Homo sapiens: one gene and its partner. Changing the gene in region 2 together with the main gene of any one other region gives a genetic interaction. Each region holds a gene or a part of one and is shown on either strand. Other genes may lie near its edges.

Region 1 (3,572 bases), on a different chromosome or scaffold from region 2:
ACTGTCAGCCCAAGATAATAACAGTTATGATACAGTTGCCATTTATTGAGTCTTTGCTATGTGCCAGGTAATGATTAAAGATTTTTCATGCATTAACCGATTTAATTGTTATAACCACCCTTTGAAGTAGGTACAGTTAGTATGCTCTTATGCCCATTTTACAGATGAGAAAGCAGAGGCAAGAGTGTCGCTAACACGTGTGTGTTCCAACAGGATCTGTCCAAAACCCTCCTGATGTACACGGTGCCTGCCGTCCAGGGCTTCTTCCGTTCCATCTCCTTGTCACGAGGCAACAACCTCCAGGATACACTCAGGTATCAGAGAAGGGAAGGATGCAACTCTGGTAGGCCATGTTAATGGCAAGACCTAGAAGTCACACGTAAAAGTCCTCTTTCCCTTCCTGACCCTGATCAGGACACCCAAGATCGATGTATGTGCCTTTTTTCTGCACTGCATTTAAGGAGTAACAGCTGACTGGGCCCCACCTGTGTGGGTGAAACCTACAGAGAGTGAGGAGGAGAAGTGGAGTGAGAACTCTCCATGTGTGGTTTATTATGGAGGGATTATTAACCCATCTGTTAATCACAATATTTCTTTTTTTCTGACCACCCTGTTGCCTATTGAAGTCACAGTATTTCTAAAATCCCTCAGCAACTTGGAGAGGTCTAAACAAATGACTCAAATCAGTTAACCCAGAGGGTAAAGGTGACAAGGTCCACATCCTCCTTCATTTGAGGATCTCCAGCCAGCTAAGAGCCAGGTGTCCCTGTTGCCTCTGCCGTACAGCGACTCTTACATGTGCAGACTTGTGGCTTTCTAAAGGTTATCCTGGCTCGTCTGTTTGATGTTTGCATACATGCCATGGTGACCCCTCGGTGACCTGGGATGAAATGCTCATTTGCTCAGGGTGACTCTTACGGTGTTCAGTCAAGAGCACTGCCACCCATCACAGACACCTGCTCCCATGGGAGGCCAAACACATTTGAGAGTTACTGGTTGGAGTCCCTGCCAGCTCTCTTCTCAGGAGCCTTAGAGATGAAAAACAGGCAGGCAAAAACTGGGAAACTAAATTTTCTGTGACTTTCTCATTTCTTTTTCAGAGTTCTCACCTTATGGTTTGATTATGGTCACTGGCCAGATGTCAATGAGGCCTTAGTGGAGGGGGTGAAAGCCATCCAGATTGATACCTGGCTACAGGTGAGGATACTTGGTTACAGGTGAAGGTGGCTCCAAGTCTCTCTTCTGTGTGTCTCCTCTTACAAGCATGCTGTGTTCAGTGTCACAAGGCAGTGTGTGTTAATACAGTGCTAAGGAAGTAGGGCTCGGTCCCAGTGTCAAGTGTCCATATTTTCTTTATTTTCTTTTAGAAACTAAAGGGAAGGGAATGAACCATTTCAGAGCATCAACCGAAACAAGTTAAAAGAATTGATCTTTGCCTAGAAGAATAACTAGTTGTTTCAAGTCTCATATGCTACATACTGTGTCTTTTTGAATACCAGGTTATACCTCAGCTCATTGCAAGAATTGATACGCCCAGACCCTTGGTGGGACGTCTCATTCACCAGCTTCTCACAGACATTGGTCGGTACCACCCCCAGGTATGTGGAGACTCTGGGCAGTTTCTCATCTAACCACTGGTTTGGTGGTCAGCCTTTCCAAAAGCTGCCCTGGCGACACAAGCGCAGGAACTGGGAGCCATGTGTTCCATCCTGGCCCAGGAGGGTCTGTCCAGCCAGCCGTCCCAGAGGGCCCGGGAGCCTTGCTAAAAAGAAAGCGTTCCCTCGAAGACTGAGCCCCTTCCTGGTAGTCTCAAGCAGATGTTAATGTCACACTCACCACTTGTTTTGTTATTCTCCTTAAAATTCATACCAGCTCTTCCCCAACCCACATTTCCTTTATAGATGTTTCTTCTGTTTTTCCCTCAGGCCCTCATCTACCCACTGACAGTGGCTTCTAAGTCTACCACGACAGCCCGGCACAATGCAGCCAACAAGATTCTGAAGAACATGTGTGAGCACAGCAACACCCTGGTCCAGCAGGCCATGATGGTGGGTCGGAGCCACTGTGGGGCTTCATAGACCCTGGTCCCTTAGCTGGTGGGCGCAAGTGGGATTGTTTTTCTTCCTCGCATTGGTGCTGTGCACTTCCTCTGACTGCTGGAAATAGTACCTCCTGTGTCTCCAAAACAGACCTTTCTGAGGTTAGCTGATTCTTGATGCTTCTCTCCTTCTTCTCTTGGCTTCAGGTGAGCGAGGAGCTGATCCGAGTGGCCATCCTCTGGCATGAGATGTGGCATGAAGGCCTGGAAGAGGCATCTCGTTTGTACTTTGGGGAAAGGAACGTGAAAGGCATGTTTGAGGTGCTGGAGCCCTTGCATGCTATGATGGAACGGGGCCCCCAGACTCTGAAGGAAACATCCTTTAATCAGGTATGGGGTAAAAAACACGAAAGGACATAACCCTGTAGAAATATTCTGCCACTAAAAAAAAATGAAATGAGAAAAGTTTTTATAGAATGAAAGGACGTGACCCAAGGCCTTTGTCAGATTTCTTTTCCTCTGGCCTTTCCACTGACTTTAATAAAACGAGCTCTGATGGAGGTCACAGAGCATAAAACATCAGAAATTAGTTACAGGGACCCTTCTGAATTTTAACTGGAAAAGCCCAAGATTTCTCAAGAGGTCATCTCGTCTCTCCTCTCACCCTTCCTTCCCTATAAGCCATGCTGCTGGTTTGGAAGCTCCAGGGTTGGAGGCCTGCACCTATGCTCTTGCTTTCTCCAGCCCCCTGCCAGTGTTTTCAGGCCACAGCGGGCTCCTGAGGAATATCTGCAGTCAGCCTGGGGATTTTGCCTCCTGGGTTGGTTGAGACTTTGATAACTTGAAAACGTGCCTGCTTTCTCTCTCAGGCCTATGGTCGAGATTTAATGGAGGCCCAAGAGTGGTGCAGGAAGTACATGAAATCAGGGAATGTCAAGGACCTCACCCAAGCCTGGGACCTCTATTATCATGTGTTCCGACGAATCTCAAAGCAGCTGCCTCAGGTAGGATCTTCAGGCTCCTGGCAGGGTTAACTGTCATTATAGTCCTTTCTGTTTTACTGTCTATGAATGTTCTAACACTCATTCCAAAGCATCTGGTTTTACTTCTGCTTTGGGACAAGTAATTGTTATTAGCAATCCACTGAAAAATACTTAAATTGCGTTTAAATTCTTCCCTGGAGGCAGAACACTAAATCCTTTGGTAATTATTTACAGCTCACATCCTTAGAGCTGCAATATGTTTCCCCAAAACTTCTGATGTGCCGGGACCTTGAATTGGCTGTGCCAGGAACATATGACCCCAACCAGCCAATCATTCGCATTCAGTCCATAGCACCGTCTTTGCAAGTCATCACATCCAAGCAGAGGCCCCGGAAATTGACACTTATGGGTAAGGACCATTGTGCACTTCTGTCACCCACTTCTCCCTCCTACACTGGCTGAGACCCCTTCCCTCTTCTGAAATTACTGCTTGCCATTCCCACTACTCACCTATCATAGCTACATCTCTCCCATGCTCATTGAGAGGAAAA
Region 2 (5,328 bases):
GAGAATGTGGCCAAACAATTTGGTGCACAAGTTCATCGAAGAAGTTCTGAAGTTTCAAAAGACAGCTCTACCTCACTAGATGCCATCATAGAATTTCTTAATTATCATAATGGTATGAATTTGATTAATAGTTTATTCAAACCTTTATGTACTTTTCTACTTCCTTTATTATCTTATAAGACTTGTTTTAACATTTGAATTCCAAACCTTAATATTACTTGCTTGCAAGGAACTTTTTTTTTAAATATCCTTTTCATTTCTCTTGTCTTTTTAAGAGGTTGACATTGTAGGAAATATTCAAGCTACTTCTCCATGTTTACATCCTACTGATCTTCAAAAAGTTGCAGAAATGATTCGAGAAGAAGGATATGATTCTGTTTTCTCTGTTGTGAGACGCCATCAGTTTCGATGGAGTGAAATTCAGAAAGGAGGTAATCTCTTTTCAGTCTTTATTTTAGCTGATTTTATTGAGAATCAATTTTTTTGTATATAAATATCCTTTAGGCATGAGGAGAGTAAAAGGGGAGCTGTAAAAGAGAGTATTTGACTCATTACTTTAGTAGGTAATGACATTTACAATCAGCTGTAAATCTGTTATCGAGCCAACACAGCTAGACCAAATTAATTCTTTGCTTTACTCTTTACAAAGGGACATTCTAATCCTCTTATTTCTGTTTGCCTTTTGAGGCAGATATGCTGTTTTTCTAGATCAAATACTTTTATGTTTGTTCTAGACATGTTTGATGAACTCCATACAAGTCATATAGAGATAGAAAGCATCCACCAAAGTGTTCTGAAGGATTTCAAGAATGACATTTTGAAGTTCTTCCCCAAATTCCTAACTCCATATATAAGAAGGGTTCCCTAGGGTTTACTAGGCATTTTGCCTGCCATGTCCAGTGTGCTATAAATCTTATCCAGAGAATTATTATAAACACTGTGTTTTTCCATTCAGTAATGTACATTTTAGTTGTTTCGTAGGGATTCCATTTTCTGTTGAAATTTTCCATTTTTTTATCCATTTTAAAAAAAGGTCATTTCCTCTAATTTAACATATTTTTGATAGCTATTTGAAAGTCCTTGATTGCAAATTTCAACATCTAGTCACTTACAGTTCTGTAATCTGCTTCTTTCTTGATTGTGAGTCACCTATTTCTGCCTCTTCATTTGGCTCATGTTTAATTGTATATCTGGCATAGACACTTGAGTACATATTTTCCTCCAGAGAGGGTACACCTTTTCTTCTATCAGGAAGATAGGATAAGGGGCTGATCACTTTGATTCAATTAGGAGTTGGGCTGGGTTGAAACTTTAATTTCATCTCACCTCTTAGTATAGGTGTCTTATTAGGAGATACATCTTGTATGTGTTACTGACACTCACACCCATACCCTACTCTTGCTAACAAGACTAAGGGATCTGATGACCACAATACTATTATGATGTCTCCCTGCTTTCCAGCCCATTCCCAGCTTCCCACCCAGTACACTCAGCCAAAGTCTTGTAAGGGGGAAGCATTAGGTGGGGAAAAACGAGCTATATGTTTGTGGTTCCTACAGATGACAATCTGTAACTCAAGTCCACAAGGTCATTGAAAGCCCTTCTAGTTTTTGCCTACCTCAGCAGAGTCCCTCTGATTATGCAAAGCTTGATCTTTCTTGTACCTTCTCCTCATACTCAGCAGATATGACCAGGGAGAAAGCAGCCACCGATACTAGGAAAGATTTGTCCCTCTCTTTTCTTCAAAGTACCACTTGAATTATCTAGTTGGTTTATTACCTGTCTCTACCCCTAGATTGTATACTTTTTGAGAATAGAGAGAGTTCTGGTCACTACTCTGTAGCCAGTGCCCATAAAGCTATGTTATCTCTAGCTATTTAATTTGTATTTGCTAAGGTTTTTTCCTGGGTTATTTCAAACACTGGGGTGGAATTGAACAGGGGATGATTTCGTTAAACAAGTAAGTAGAGGTTATTCCTAGAAGCCTGTATAAACACAGAAATGGCAGCAAAAAGTGAAGAAAGATTCTGGAGAGTAACCAGCTATTACACACACACACATACACACACACACACACACACACACACACACACACAGATTTGAGGAAAACTCAGTGGAAAGGCAAAGGAATCTCTACATGACAGTACCAAAGTCTTCATTGATTACATTATGTTCTATTCATTAATGTTGACATTACTGAGCCTTTATTATCAGGTATACTCATAAACATAATTTATTATTATGTTTAGTATATTTTTAACTAATGGTAAGAATGTATAATATGTTACATAAACATTTTCATCAATATAAAATCTTCAATAATTTAATGGAGAAATCTTTACTTTTCAGCAATAATTGTATAAAAACAAGTTCTCAACCACATTAGATAAATAAAACTTATTTCTGTATATGCAAACAATGAGAACTAGATTAAAGGGCCCAAATATTAATATAGGTATTTTATGACAAATTCAGTTCTTTTAAAGCTACTTTAAGGTTGTCTTGATGTCCTCCCAAAGCATAATATTTGTATGAATACCTTAATTGTTCCACATTTCATTATAAAATACTTTAGTTTTCTAGTAGCTATTGGAAAGCAAAGATAAATCATCAGAATTATTACAGATTTTATTCCTTTAAAAAAGTTCTTTTTTTTTTTTTTGAGACAGAGTCTCACTCTGTTGCCCAGGCTGGATGGAGTACAGTGGCGCAATCTCGGCTCACTGCAATCTCCCCCCCCCGGGTTCAAGCGATTCTCCTGCCTCAGCCTCCCAAGTAGCTGGGATTACAGGTACCCACCACCATGCCCGGCTAAATTTGTGTTTTTAGTGGAGATGGCGTTTCACTATGTTGGCTGGGCTGCTCTCGAACTCCTGACCTCAAGTGATCCGCCCGCCTTGGCCTCCACAGTGCTGGGATTACAGGCGTGAATCACCACATTCAGCCTAAAAAAAGTTCTTTATCAGGCCGGGTGCAGTGCCTCATGCCTGTAATTCCAGCACTTTGGGAGGCCGAGGTGGGCGGATCACGAGGTCAGGAGTTCGAGACCAGCCCGGACAACATGGTGAAACCCCATCTCCACTAAAAATACAAAAATTAGCCAGGTGTGGTGGTGCATGCCTGTAGTCCCAGCTACTTGGGAGGCTGAGGCAGGAGAATCGCTTGAACCCAGGAGGCGGAGGTTGCAGTGAGCCAAGATCGCACCATTGCACTCCAGCCTGGGTGACAGAGCGAGACTCTGTCTCAAAAAAAAAAAAAGAAAAGTTCTTTATCTAGATAAAGAAATGCTCTGCATTCTGAGTTCATTTTTATTAACTTTTTTAGTTACTAAATTAACACTTTCTATATTCAGGGCAACGTGGACTTACTCTAACTTTTTGCTTTTAGTTCGTGAAGTGACCGAACCTCTGAATTTAAATCCAGCTAAACGGCCTCGTCGACAAGACTGGGATGGAGAATTATATGAAAATGGCTCATTTTATTTTGCTAAAAGACATTTGATAGAGATGGGTTACTTGCAGGTTTGTACCTTCATTTTGCATAACCCTTTTAAGCGCTTTTGTAGGCATACTTTGAGTTCTAGGGAAGAAGTATGGTACAATTTCTTTATGATAAAGAAAAGTATCAACCTATAGAGGAAAGGTAATAGCCAACAACATTTGCTATCTGAGGCATTTATCCTGCAGGTTTACCCCAAAGTGATCTTTGGAATCCATTCAGTAAATATGCAAGGAATTCTGCTACAACGATAAAAAAATGAATCAAGTACTGGGTGTCTACACATGTCCTGGTACTCATATTATTCCACTCAAAACTACGTAATCCATGTTTGTGTTATAGTTATATTGTGGCTGTAGGGTTGAATAACTTCTATTGCTTTAAAAAGACAAATAATTTCATAGAGGTGAAAAGAGTTACAACCTGGGTGTCAGGAAACCCGGAATCTTTTTATATATATATATATATATATTTTTTTTTTTTTTTATTATACTTTAAGTCAACTGCCTCTTACTATGTAAGCTTGAATATGTATCATTTTATCTGTCCTGACTCTCATTTTCAAATAACAGATTTAATGTCTCTCTCATTTTAGAGCCTGCAACATGGTTGCATCATATATTTCTTAACTTGTTAATTTTAGTTATCATTATTATTTATTATTTACTGTGTACTTCGGAGTAGGTGAAACACTTTGCATATGTTATCTTATGTAATCTGCATAGCGAATGAATGAAGTGGACATTTCTACCCAGTTTTACAGAGGAGGAAAACTGCCTCACTGAAATATGAAGTAATTGACTCAAGGCAAAAACAGCTAATAAATGGTACTGTCAGGATTTGGATTCAGGTTCTTATGTTACTCAAGAAATAGCGGTTTTAAAGAGAGAGAGAGAAACCTCTCCATTGTGTAATAAAAATTCTAATGGGACTATTATTCTGAGCAAAAGAGAGAAAAACATTTTTACAAATCTTCTGGTCAATGTGTAGGCAAACTATAGACTAGCTGTTTAGTTAAATTTAAGTGTTCAGAAAAATTGGATTTGACACACATAGATACTACCATTTTTAAGCTTTTTTCTAAGGAGGACCATGATTAACCCATTCCTAAAGTGTGGAGAAAAATGTTTCTCATTAAAACAAGGTTTATGAAGAGACTGACAATTCTGAAAAAAAAAATGAAATTGAAATTGTCCAGTAATTGATCTTGTCATTCAAATAATTACTATCAGAAGAAAGACCCTTTCTCTTGCTGACCCTTGCCTAGAATCAAGAGACTGCCCTTGCCTTTGCCTGCATGTGACTTGGATGACTATTAGTCATTTTCATCAGTAGCTCAGAGATCTAAGAAAACTCTGTACAACAGATGCTACAGTTATTTTTCCTCCCCTGTGTTGCCTGTTAGTTGCAAATTAGAACAGAAGTTCCAAAAACCTTAATACTGCTTTTGGATGATGACAGGAGAGACTTCTTGAAAAAAAGGAGGATATGATTAAGGGATTTCCACAAAATCCCTTGTGGTCAGAAACCTGGAGGATGTAATATTTCTGCTTTTTTCAATATTAAAATAGAAATTTTCTTAAATAGGGAACTTGAACTGTTTAGATAGAATTTGAAAAATGTTAAGGTTATTTCTTTTGTGTGAGCTTTCTCCTTAAAAAAAAAAAAAAAAAAAAAAAAAAAGCTGGGCGTGGTGGCTGAAGCATGTCATCCCAGCACTTTGAGAGGCCAGCTTGAGGCCTCAAGAGGATAGCTTGAGGCCAGGTTTCCAAGACCAGCCTTGGCAACATAGCAAGATCTTATATCTACAAAAAACTTTTTAAAAATTTA

What was found.
Region 1: changes in CMAS (region 2) and MTOR together harm fitness more than expected from each alone (negative genetic interaction), as found in Homo sapiens cells (one large-scale study listed by BioGRID).

Annotation. Positions count from the first base shown.
Region 1 is NC_000001.11:11,126,480-11,130,051, reverse strand, and holds part of MTOR (serine/threonine-protein kinase mTOR), read left to right. Parts: intron 1-213; coding exon 214-314; intron 315-1,100; coding exon 1,101-1,197; intron 1,198-1,499; coding exon 1,500-1,598; intron 1,599-1,925; coding exon 1,926-2,048; intron 2,049-2,245; coding exon 2,246-2,428; intron 2,429-2,907; coding exon 2,908-3,042; intron 3,043-3,255; coding exon 3,256-3,430; intron 3,431-3,572. UniProt on the Homo sapiens protein: Serine/threonine protein kinase which is a central regulator of cellular metabolism, growth and survival in response to hormones, growth factors, nutrients, energy and stress signals.
Region 2 is NC_000012.12:22,055,180-22,060,507, forward strand, and holds part of CMAS (N-acylneuraminate cytidylyltransferase), read left to right. Parts: coding exon 1-112; intron 113-275; coding exon 276-431; intron 432-3,387; coding exon 3,388-3,521; intron 3,522-5,328. UniProt on the Homo sapiens protein: Catalyzes the activation of N-acetylneuraminic acid (NeuNAc) to cytidine 5'-monophosphate N-acetylneuraminic acid (CMP-NeuNAc), a substrate required for the addition of sialic acid.